2 linked regions of the Homo sapiens genome follow. The protein of the gene in region 1 interacts with the protein of each later gene in a biochemical or structural test. Each region holds a gene or a part of one and is shown on either strand. Other genes may lie near its edges.

Region 1 (5,455 bases):
GACATTATGTAGGGAAATAGCAGCAGAGAATGGCTAATCTTAAAAAATAACGAACCAACCAACCAAAAAACAAAACAAAACAAGACCAACAAAAAAAAGTGCCATCCCACCCCTCCCCTTGGTTCTTTCATTTGGGGTTATATTAAAGACTCGAGCCTCTGAGAAAATCAGAAAGGCAAAGCCATAGAGGAAAACTGCTTCAAGGCCAGAATTTTGGGTAAGGTAAAGAAAAAGCTGTACATGAAAGCAGGGGACTGTTTGGAAAAGAATCAGAATCTCAAGATCTATTTTTCTTAAATGGGAAAGCTCTGAAACCCAGATCTCCGTTCTACCATCATCCTGATCCTTTAGTTATGGGGCAATAAACTCAAGTGCAATGAGTAAAGTGCCAGCCATGGATACAAAAACAAAAAATAAAACAAAACAACCAACCAAAATAACTCTGGTCTTAGGGTAATAGAAGACATACAGGAAAGGACTGTTTATAGAACACCTGAGGTTCTCAAGAAATTACTATTCAATGGTTCTGTTTTTGCTTACATTAAAAATCAGACTGAAGATTCAAAGATCTTAACTATTAAAGGATGAAAGGAATTTGACAGTGCTTTGAACAGTGATAAAATGGTACCCAAATTTGGTGTTCATATAGCTATTTAAAAAAGACAGTAGCTTAAAAGTTGCAGGAAAAAATGTGAACACAGAGAACAACAGAAACAGTCCAGGAAGATGATGCAGCCCGGACACAGCAAGTTTAATGTCTCTGCTGTACATAGAATTAAGACCCTTTCCCCCTCCTCATCCTTATGCTGGCAATAGGATATGCACTAGAAAATTTGACTCTTAGAGTCAATGAATAAAAGGATGGGCTCATACACCTTCATAGCTCTTTTCAAAAAGGATGCTTATAATTTAAAGGATGTCCTAATGGGAAGGAAAGGTACAGGGCAAGAGGCTGTTTCACATTTTAGTCCATTAGTCTTTGGCAGAGCCCAACCAAGGCCAAATTCACCTAGGATGCCCAATGGCTGTGGGGATCTCCACAGGGTCAAGTAAGCAAACCCAAATGAACATGTTGGATTAAAAAAAAAACAAGATCTAGAAACTCTTGAAGGAAGAGCTTCACCCTGAAAAGGGAAGAGGAAAATGCTTGAAGGGGAAGGGCGGAGGGTCAGTGTGTGATCTCTGCTGTGGTGCTGGGCAGGGGCTTAGGAGTTAAGCCAAGGGTGCCGGAGACACTCGGCGGCAGTGGCTCTCTTCTCAGGGATCAGCTCCAACATGGGCAGTAAGAAATCTGTGAAGCCAGCTGCCTCTTCCTGCGACCACTCATACTTCTCCACTAGAACCTCAAAAAGGCCCCAAGGTTTCAGCTTCGTGATATGTTTCAGGTCACCTGCAGTGAAGACAGTACAGAAAAAGCCACTGATCAACACAGACAAATGACAAGGTACTCTTGTGGAAACCCACAAACTAACCCATGTAGTCTATGAGGAATCAAATTTTGCAATCAGAATCTAATCCTTCATTCACAAAGCATTTCTTTTCTGACATATGCCTCAGAAAGAAGTGCCTCTATTCTTCATACGGCTCCAAAAATTTAAGGTAATTTGTTTTCTCCCCTATTCTAGGATTTTTTTGGTCCCAGTCAAACTGGGTGTGACAATCAAGAAGTAGGTATTTACTACTAAAATAAACATGAAATGCCTATGTCTTCAACATGGTCTTATATGGTGTGCAGAGACACTCTAGTACCACATACCGAGAATAATTTGCTTATACTCTTTTTTTGTGTATGTGCTCAATAGTTTAGTAAATGTTGCTTTACAGTGAGGCAGTAAAGTTAAAACATCATGTCAAGCATGGATAAAAGCAACAAAAAAAACCCCAAATCCTACACAGTTTTCAGATACAACAGCTTCATATACTCTATACCAGGGGTCCCCAACTCTATACCAATACCCCCTATGGTACCAGTCTGCGGTCTGTCAGGTCTGCACAGCAGCAGGTCAGTGGTGGGCCAGCAAGCATTACTGCCTAAGCTCCACCTCCTGTCAGCTCAGTGGCTGCATTAGATTCTCACAGGAGCGTGAATCCTACTGTGAACTGCAGTAGGGATCTAGGTTGCATGTTCCATAAAAGAACCTAATGCCTGACAATCTGAGGTGACACAGTTTTATCTCCAAACCACCCCCCAACCCCCCCATCCATTGAAAAACTGTCTTCCACAAAACCAGTCCCTGGTGCCAAAAAGATTGGGGACCGCTGCTCTACACTATACTGGAGTATCAACCTAATTGCTTCTTTGAAGTGACAACTTTTTAAAAGATAGTCAATTATTAATAGCTAAGGCAAATGCTGCTTTAAAATTTTAAGTTGGCCAGGCACAGTGGCTCATGCCTGTAATTCCAGCACTTTGGGAGGCTGAGTCGGGTGGATCACTTGAGCTCAGGAGTTCAAGACCAGCCTGGGCAACATAGTGAAACCCTGCCTCTACCAAAAATACAAAAAAATTAGCTGTGTATGGTGGCACATGCCTGTGGTCCTAGCTACTTGGGAGGTTGAGGCAGGAGGATCATTTGAACCTGGGAGGTGGAGGTTGCAGTGAGCCAAGATCGTGCCACTGTACTCCAGCCTGGGTGACAGAGTGATACCCTGTCTCAATAATAATAATAATAATAATAATAATAATAATTTTTTTTAAACATAAAAATTTTAAGTCTCTTTTGTGAGCAGTGAGTGCCTATTTGATTACCTACCTGGTAAACACACATGCCTTAATCTGACTGCACATGAGGAGGAACTCTTATGAAACATTTTACAATTTTCCCACCTAAAAAGAGGTTTAAGAAAGGGTAATGTTTCTGAGGATGGCTCCTGCCAAGGATTGAGAAAAGTCATTTTTCTCAGCACTTCTGTAGAAGTTGTGAGGAAAAAGGGAACCATGGCACAATGGGGGTAGAAAAACCAGACCATTTCCTAGATGCTTCTAGGTCAGGTTTTCACATTTCAGGTTTTTTTTGCAATGCTTAAGAAATATATTATCAAGTCAAAAATTGGAAGTTTTGTTTTTGTGGTTTTTTTTGTAATAACAAATACATAAAACTAAAAAGTGTGAAGTTCGTTTGTATGACTAATGTACTTCGAGTGACTGTGTTAGGTGTCACTGGGATGCAAAGATGAGTGAGATGTAGTCCCTGCCCTTATGTAAGAAGCTTAAATTACCTGCCCTTTGGTAGAGGCAGTTCTTAGACCAAACGCCAGCAAAAAATTTGCCCATTTTTCAGAAGTGCTATAGAAGTAATCAACCAACTGCATGCAGGCACTATACATATTAACTGTTAGTAAGAAGTATACTTTATTATTATCTCCATTAAGAAATCAGCAAACTGAGGCACAGTTAGATCCTGTCAAAGGTCACATGGCTAGTGGAGTAGCCAGGATTTGACAGTCTGGCTCCAGTCTCTGCTCTTTTTTTTCCCCGAGACAGGATCTTGCTCTGTTGCCCATGCTGGAGTGCAGTGGCAATCATGGCTCACTGCAGCCTTGACCTCCCAGGCTCAAGTGATCCTCCCACCCCAGCTTTCGGAGTAGCTGCGACCACAGGTGTGTACCACCATGCCCAGTTAATTAAAAATTTTTTTTTGTAGAGACAGGGTTTTCCTGTGCTGCCCAGGCTGGTCTTGAACTCCTAGACTCAAGTGATCCTCCTGCCTTGGACTCCCAAAGTGTTGGGATTACAGGCGTGAGCCACCATGCCTGGCTCCAGTCTCTGCTTTTTTTTTTTTTTTGTGAGACAGAGTTTCACTCTTGTTGCCCAGGCTGGAGGGCAATGGTGCGATCTTGGCTCACTGCAACCTCCGCCTCCCAGATTCAAGTGATTCTCCTGTCTCAGCCTCCTGAGTAGCTGGGATTACAGGCGCCCGCCACTCTTCCCAGCTAATTTTTTGTATTTTTAGTAGAGACGGGGTTTCACCGGGTTGGCCAGGCTGTTCTCAAACTCCTGATATTGTGATTCGCCCACCTTGGTCTCCCAAAGTGCTGGGATCACAGGTATGAGCCACCGCGCCCGGCTCAGTCTCTGCTCTTGACCACTTTTTTTACCTCTTTTTTATCTCTTTGCTAAGTCACAGGTTAGCATTCAAGGCAGGCCCATCATTCTGTAGGACATTGGGAATATGTGCTTACCTCTTCATTTTTAAACACTTCTGCCTCCTTAATGTCTGGGAACACATTTACTTTACCTTTTTTGGTGAAAAATTCCTTGGAATATTTTCCTGCCACAATGAGCTTGCGAGGCACCTTCCCCAGAAGTTCTATGATCAATGCAATGTGATCTGTATATTTCAAACATTTCAAGAGGGGGGAAAAAAAAGATCCGTAACAAGAGTAACAAATGCAGCTCTAGAAAACAGCAGAAGGAGCAGCATGCACATCTCTTTGTAAAGCCTATCAGGCTTACTTTCTATCCTAAATGGGAAGAGGAAGACTCTATCCATCTAATGGAGAATTCACAAAGTCAAATTTTTGTGGATTCAGTGATAACTAAAAACAATCTTGGTGTGAATGCTCTGCTTCCTGAAGTATCCCTGGGTCCTACATAACAATACTACCTCTGTGACTGAAGAAGTCTTGTGAATATTTCCCACTGAGGGAAAAGCGTCTTGGAATTCTGCCTATCAGCTCTATAATGTGCACAATGTGGTCTAAAATAGAAGGGTAAGAAGAACAGATCAAGGACAAGCTGTAAAAGAGGTTTTTCTATGAATAGCTTTTTCAAGGACTAGCTGTTTAAAAGTAACTACAAATAAAACCAAGGATACTGAAGGAAGACTGACTGGGAAGGCCAAGAATTATTTCAGGTGGTTGGTCACCCGATAGTGTCTGGCAAGTCCCATTCTGGATTTTGGAGGCTTATCTTCATCTTTAGTTCTATTTTGTCTATATATCTAGGTTCAGGTAGGTTCTTTAGGTAAGATAAAAAACTGTCCAAATATGTGTTAGGCATTCTAGAACTATTATTTGTGATCATTCTGTCTCAGCCTCCCCAGTGGCTGGGATTTCAGGCATGTGCCACCACACCTGGCTGACTTAAAACATTTTTTGTAGAGATGAGGTCTTGGCATACTGCCAAGCTGGTCTCAAACTCCTGGGCTCAAGCAATCCTCCTGCCTTGGCCTCCCGAAGTGTTGGGATTACAGGCCTGAGCCACCACCTGGCTGATACCCCATTTTAAAGATGAGAAAATAGAACTTCAAAAAGCATGAATGGCCTAACTTGAAACTTCAGGGCTAATATGAGCTAAAACTCAGATGAAAACCAATGATCTTATGTCTTGTCTAAAGCTTTTAATTTCTTCCTAAAATCACTTTTTAAAAGTAAAGATTAGCACAAACATTTTAAAGTATAGCTGCTTGATGATCTGTAAACATCACAGTATGAATATGGACCATGAGCACAA
Region 2 (3,500 bases), on another chromosome or scaffold:
CTTTTTTAAGTAAATAAGCCTTTTAAGCTCAGAGCTTAAGAAACTTCCTCAAAATCACATAATCAGCTAGTTAGTGGCTGGGTAAAATCCATCAGACTCCAAAGCCCAATTCCTTATGGAGTCCAATAAGAACCTTACAATTAGGCCGGGAGCAGTGGCTCATGCCTGTAATCCCAGCACTTTGGGAGGTGGAGGCAGGCAGATCACGAGGTCAGGAGATCGGGACCATCCTGGCTAACACGGTGAAACTCCGTCTCTACTAAAAATACAAAAAACTAGCCGGGCGTGGTGACACATGCCTGTAGTCCCAGCTATTTGGAAGGCTGAGGCAGGAGAATCGTTTGAACCCGGGAGGCAGAGGTTGCAGTGAGTCGAGATTGCACCACTGCACCCTGGCCTGGGTGACAGAGCGAGACTCCGTCTCAAAACAAAAAACCAAAAAACAAAAAACAAAAACCTCACAATTGGAGTTCCTGAACATCAAAAAGAAAGAAAGCGGCCAAAAATTCTACAGTGAAGCCCTGGGCTCAGATGAGGAGCAGTGGATTCAGGGAAACAATGTGTCTTTGGTGAGTCACTGAACCTCTGGGCCTTGGCTATCCCCTCGTGACAGTGACGTAAGCAGGCTTGTCCCCCGACCTGTCCTACTGGGGACCTGTGAATACGCATGCGAACCAAGCGATGGCAGCAACATACGATGGAGTGTGGCACTGCTGTTCCTTTACTGGTCAGTGTTTTCACAAAAATGTTCATGGATGGCACAGGTGGACAAAAAAAAGTTTCCACTTGCTAAACTGATGAGCTATCAGATGCCGAGAAAGGATGAACAGAGATTGGCATCTAAAGCCAATCCTTGGGGTGACAAGGGCCCCTTGGTATGGTGATGGGAAGCTTTCATCAGGAGGTGTTATGTGCTGAATTGAGTCCCCCCAATTCAAATGCTGTAGCTCTAAGTACCTCGATTTGGAGATAGGGCCTTTAAAGAGGTGGTTAAGCTAAAATGTGGCCTTTAGGGTAGGCCCTAATCTAATCTGCCTGGTGTCCTTACATGAAGAGGAATGCAAACACACAGAAACACCAGGGATACATGCACACAGAGGAAAGACCATGTGAGGACACAGCGAGGAGGCAGCCATCTGCAAGCCAAGGAGAGAGGCCTCAGAAGAAACCAGGCCTGTCAATATCTTGACTTGGATTTCCAGTTTCCAGAGCTGTGAGAGACAAATTTCCATTGTTTCAGCCACTCAGTCTATGCCATTTTGTTATGGCAGCCCTAGCAGCCTCAAATAGGAGAGGTAGGTCAGATGGGCCAGAGAAAATCACCTGGTGGCCCAAGTGGCTCTAACAAGTTGCCGAAGTGGGCAAGAACCACTTGTGAGCGAACCTGTGGCCAGAAGTCTCTACAAAAGCCTTTGCATTTTTTTTTCTTGAGATGGGGTCTCACTCTGTCGCCCAGGCTGGAGTCCAATGGCGCGATCTTGGCTCACTGCAACCTCCGCCTCTGGGGTTCAAGTGATTCTCGTGCCTCAGCCTCCTGGGTAGCTGGGATTACAGGTGTGCACCATCACACCCAGCTAATTTTTTAATTTTTAGTAGAGATGGGATTTCACCATGTTGGTCAGGCTAGTCTCAAACTCCTGACCTCAGATGATCTGCCCGCCTTGGCCTCCCAAAGTGCTTGGATTACAGGCATGAGCCACCATGCCTAGCCGCATTTTTCTTTAAAAATAAAAAATATACATTTTTCTTTTTACTTATTCATCACAGAAAACTTAGAAATACAAGTAAGTAAAAATAAAAAACTATAAATACTCCCATCACCCAAATATAATTAGTAACATCTTTGTACATGTTCTTCAAGATCTTTCTCAACACAGAAATACATATCTATTTTTTAAAAAAAAGTTTTTTTTTGGCCAGGCATGGTGGCTCATGCCTGTAATCCCAGCACTTTGGGAGGCTGAGGCAGGTGGATCAACTGAGGTCAGGAGTTCGAAACCAGCCTGGCCAACATGGTGAAACCCCATCTCTACCAAAAATACAAAAATTAGCCAGACGTGGTGGTGCGTGCCTGTAATCCCAGCTACTTGGGAGGCTGGGGCAGGAGAATCGCTTGAACCTGGGAGGCAGAGGTTGCAGTGAGCCGAGATCGTGCCACTGCACTCCAGCCTGGGCAACAGAGTGAGACTCCATCTCAAAAAAAAAAAAATTTTTTTTTAACTGGCCACTCAAAAAAATTTTTTTTAAAGACAGGCTTTTGCTATGTTGCCCAGGCTGGTCTCAAACTCCTGGACTCAAGCAATCCTCTCACCTTGGCCTTTCACAGTGTTGGGATTACAGGTGTAAGCCACAGCACTTGGCCCCACAGATCTATTTTTTAAAGGACAGTAGGTTCATAACATACATACTATTTTATAACCTATTAGTGTATAATAATACTTTTCAATATTAGTAAATATTATTTGCAAATTTTAAATTTTTATTAATATTTAAATTGACAAATCAATTATATACATTTATTTAGTATAATGTGATGATTTGATATATGTAAACAATGTGGGATGATCAGGCTAATTAGCATATCTATTGCCTCACTTTTTTTTGTGGTGAGACATTTGAAATTTACTCTATTGGTTATTTTGAAATATACGATACATTGTTATTGAGTAGAGTCACCCTGAATAATTTTAAATGGTTGCAAATGTGTCAGCTTAATTAATTATGAGAGATTTAGGTTCTTTCTATTTATTTCTTTATTTTTTAGAGTCAGGGTATTGCTTTGTCACTCAGGCTGGAATGCAGTGGCACGATCCTAGCTCACTGTAGCCTCAACCTCCCGGGCTCAAGCAATCATCCTACCTCAGCCCCCCAAGTAGCTGGGACTACAGGTATGTGCCATGACACCTGGCTAATGTTTTAAAAATTTTTTTCTGGAGTTGTAGTCCCCAGCCTTTTTGGCACCAGCGACCGGTTTTACAGAAGATAATTTTTCCATGGACGGGGTTGGTTGGGGGAGGTTTTGGGACAAAACTGTTCCACCACAGATCATCAGACATTAGATTCTCATAAGAAGCCCACAATCTAGATCCCTCGCATGTGCAGTTCCCAACAGGGTTCAGGCTCCTATGAGAATCTAATGCGCCACTGATCTGATGGAGGCAGAGCTCAGGTGATGATGCTCCTTCGCCCATCACTCACTTCCTGCTGTGTGCTCCAGTTCCTAACAAGCCACGGATCAGTACCTGTCTCTAGAAGAGGGATTGGCTACCCCATTCTAGAGACAGGGTCTCCGTATATTGCTCAGGCTTGTCTTGAACTCCTGGGTTCAAGTGATTCTCTCACCTTGGCCTCCCAAAGAGCTGGAATTACAGGTATGAGCCACCACCATGGCCGTTATTTCTATTTTTATCACATTTACAAACACTATTGTCTCTGTTATTTAAATCTCCATCAACATTCTTAATGATTTCCTCAAGGCTGTTTTATTCTTTGCCCTCCTT

The links.
Region 2: of the proteins of SRPK1 (region 1) and ADPRH, one has a biochemical effect on the other in vitro, tested with the Homo sapiens proteins (one large-scale study listed by BioGRID and IntAct).

The regions. Positions count from the first base shown.
Region 1 is NC_000006.12:35,834,099-35,839,553, forward strand, and holds part of SRPK1 (SRSF protein kinase 1), read right to left. Parts: intron 4,332-5,455; coding exon 4,239-4,331; intron 1,391-4,238; coding exon 1,206-1,390; 3' UTR 1-1,205. UniProt on the Homo sapiens protein: Serine/arginine-rich protein-specific kinase which specifically phosphorylates its substrates at serine residues located in regions rich in arginine/serine dipeptides, known as RS domains and is involved in the phosphorylation of SR splicing factors and the regulation of splicing.
Region 2 is NC_000003.12:119,582,492-119,585,991, reverse strand, and holds part of ADPRH (ADP-ribosylarginine hydrolase), read right to left. Parts: intron 1-3,500.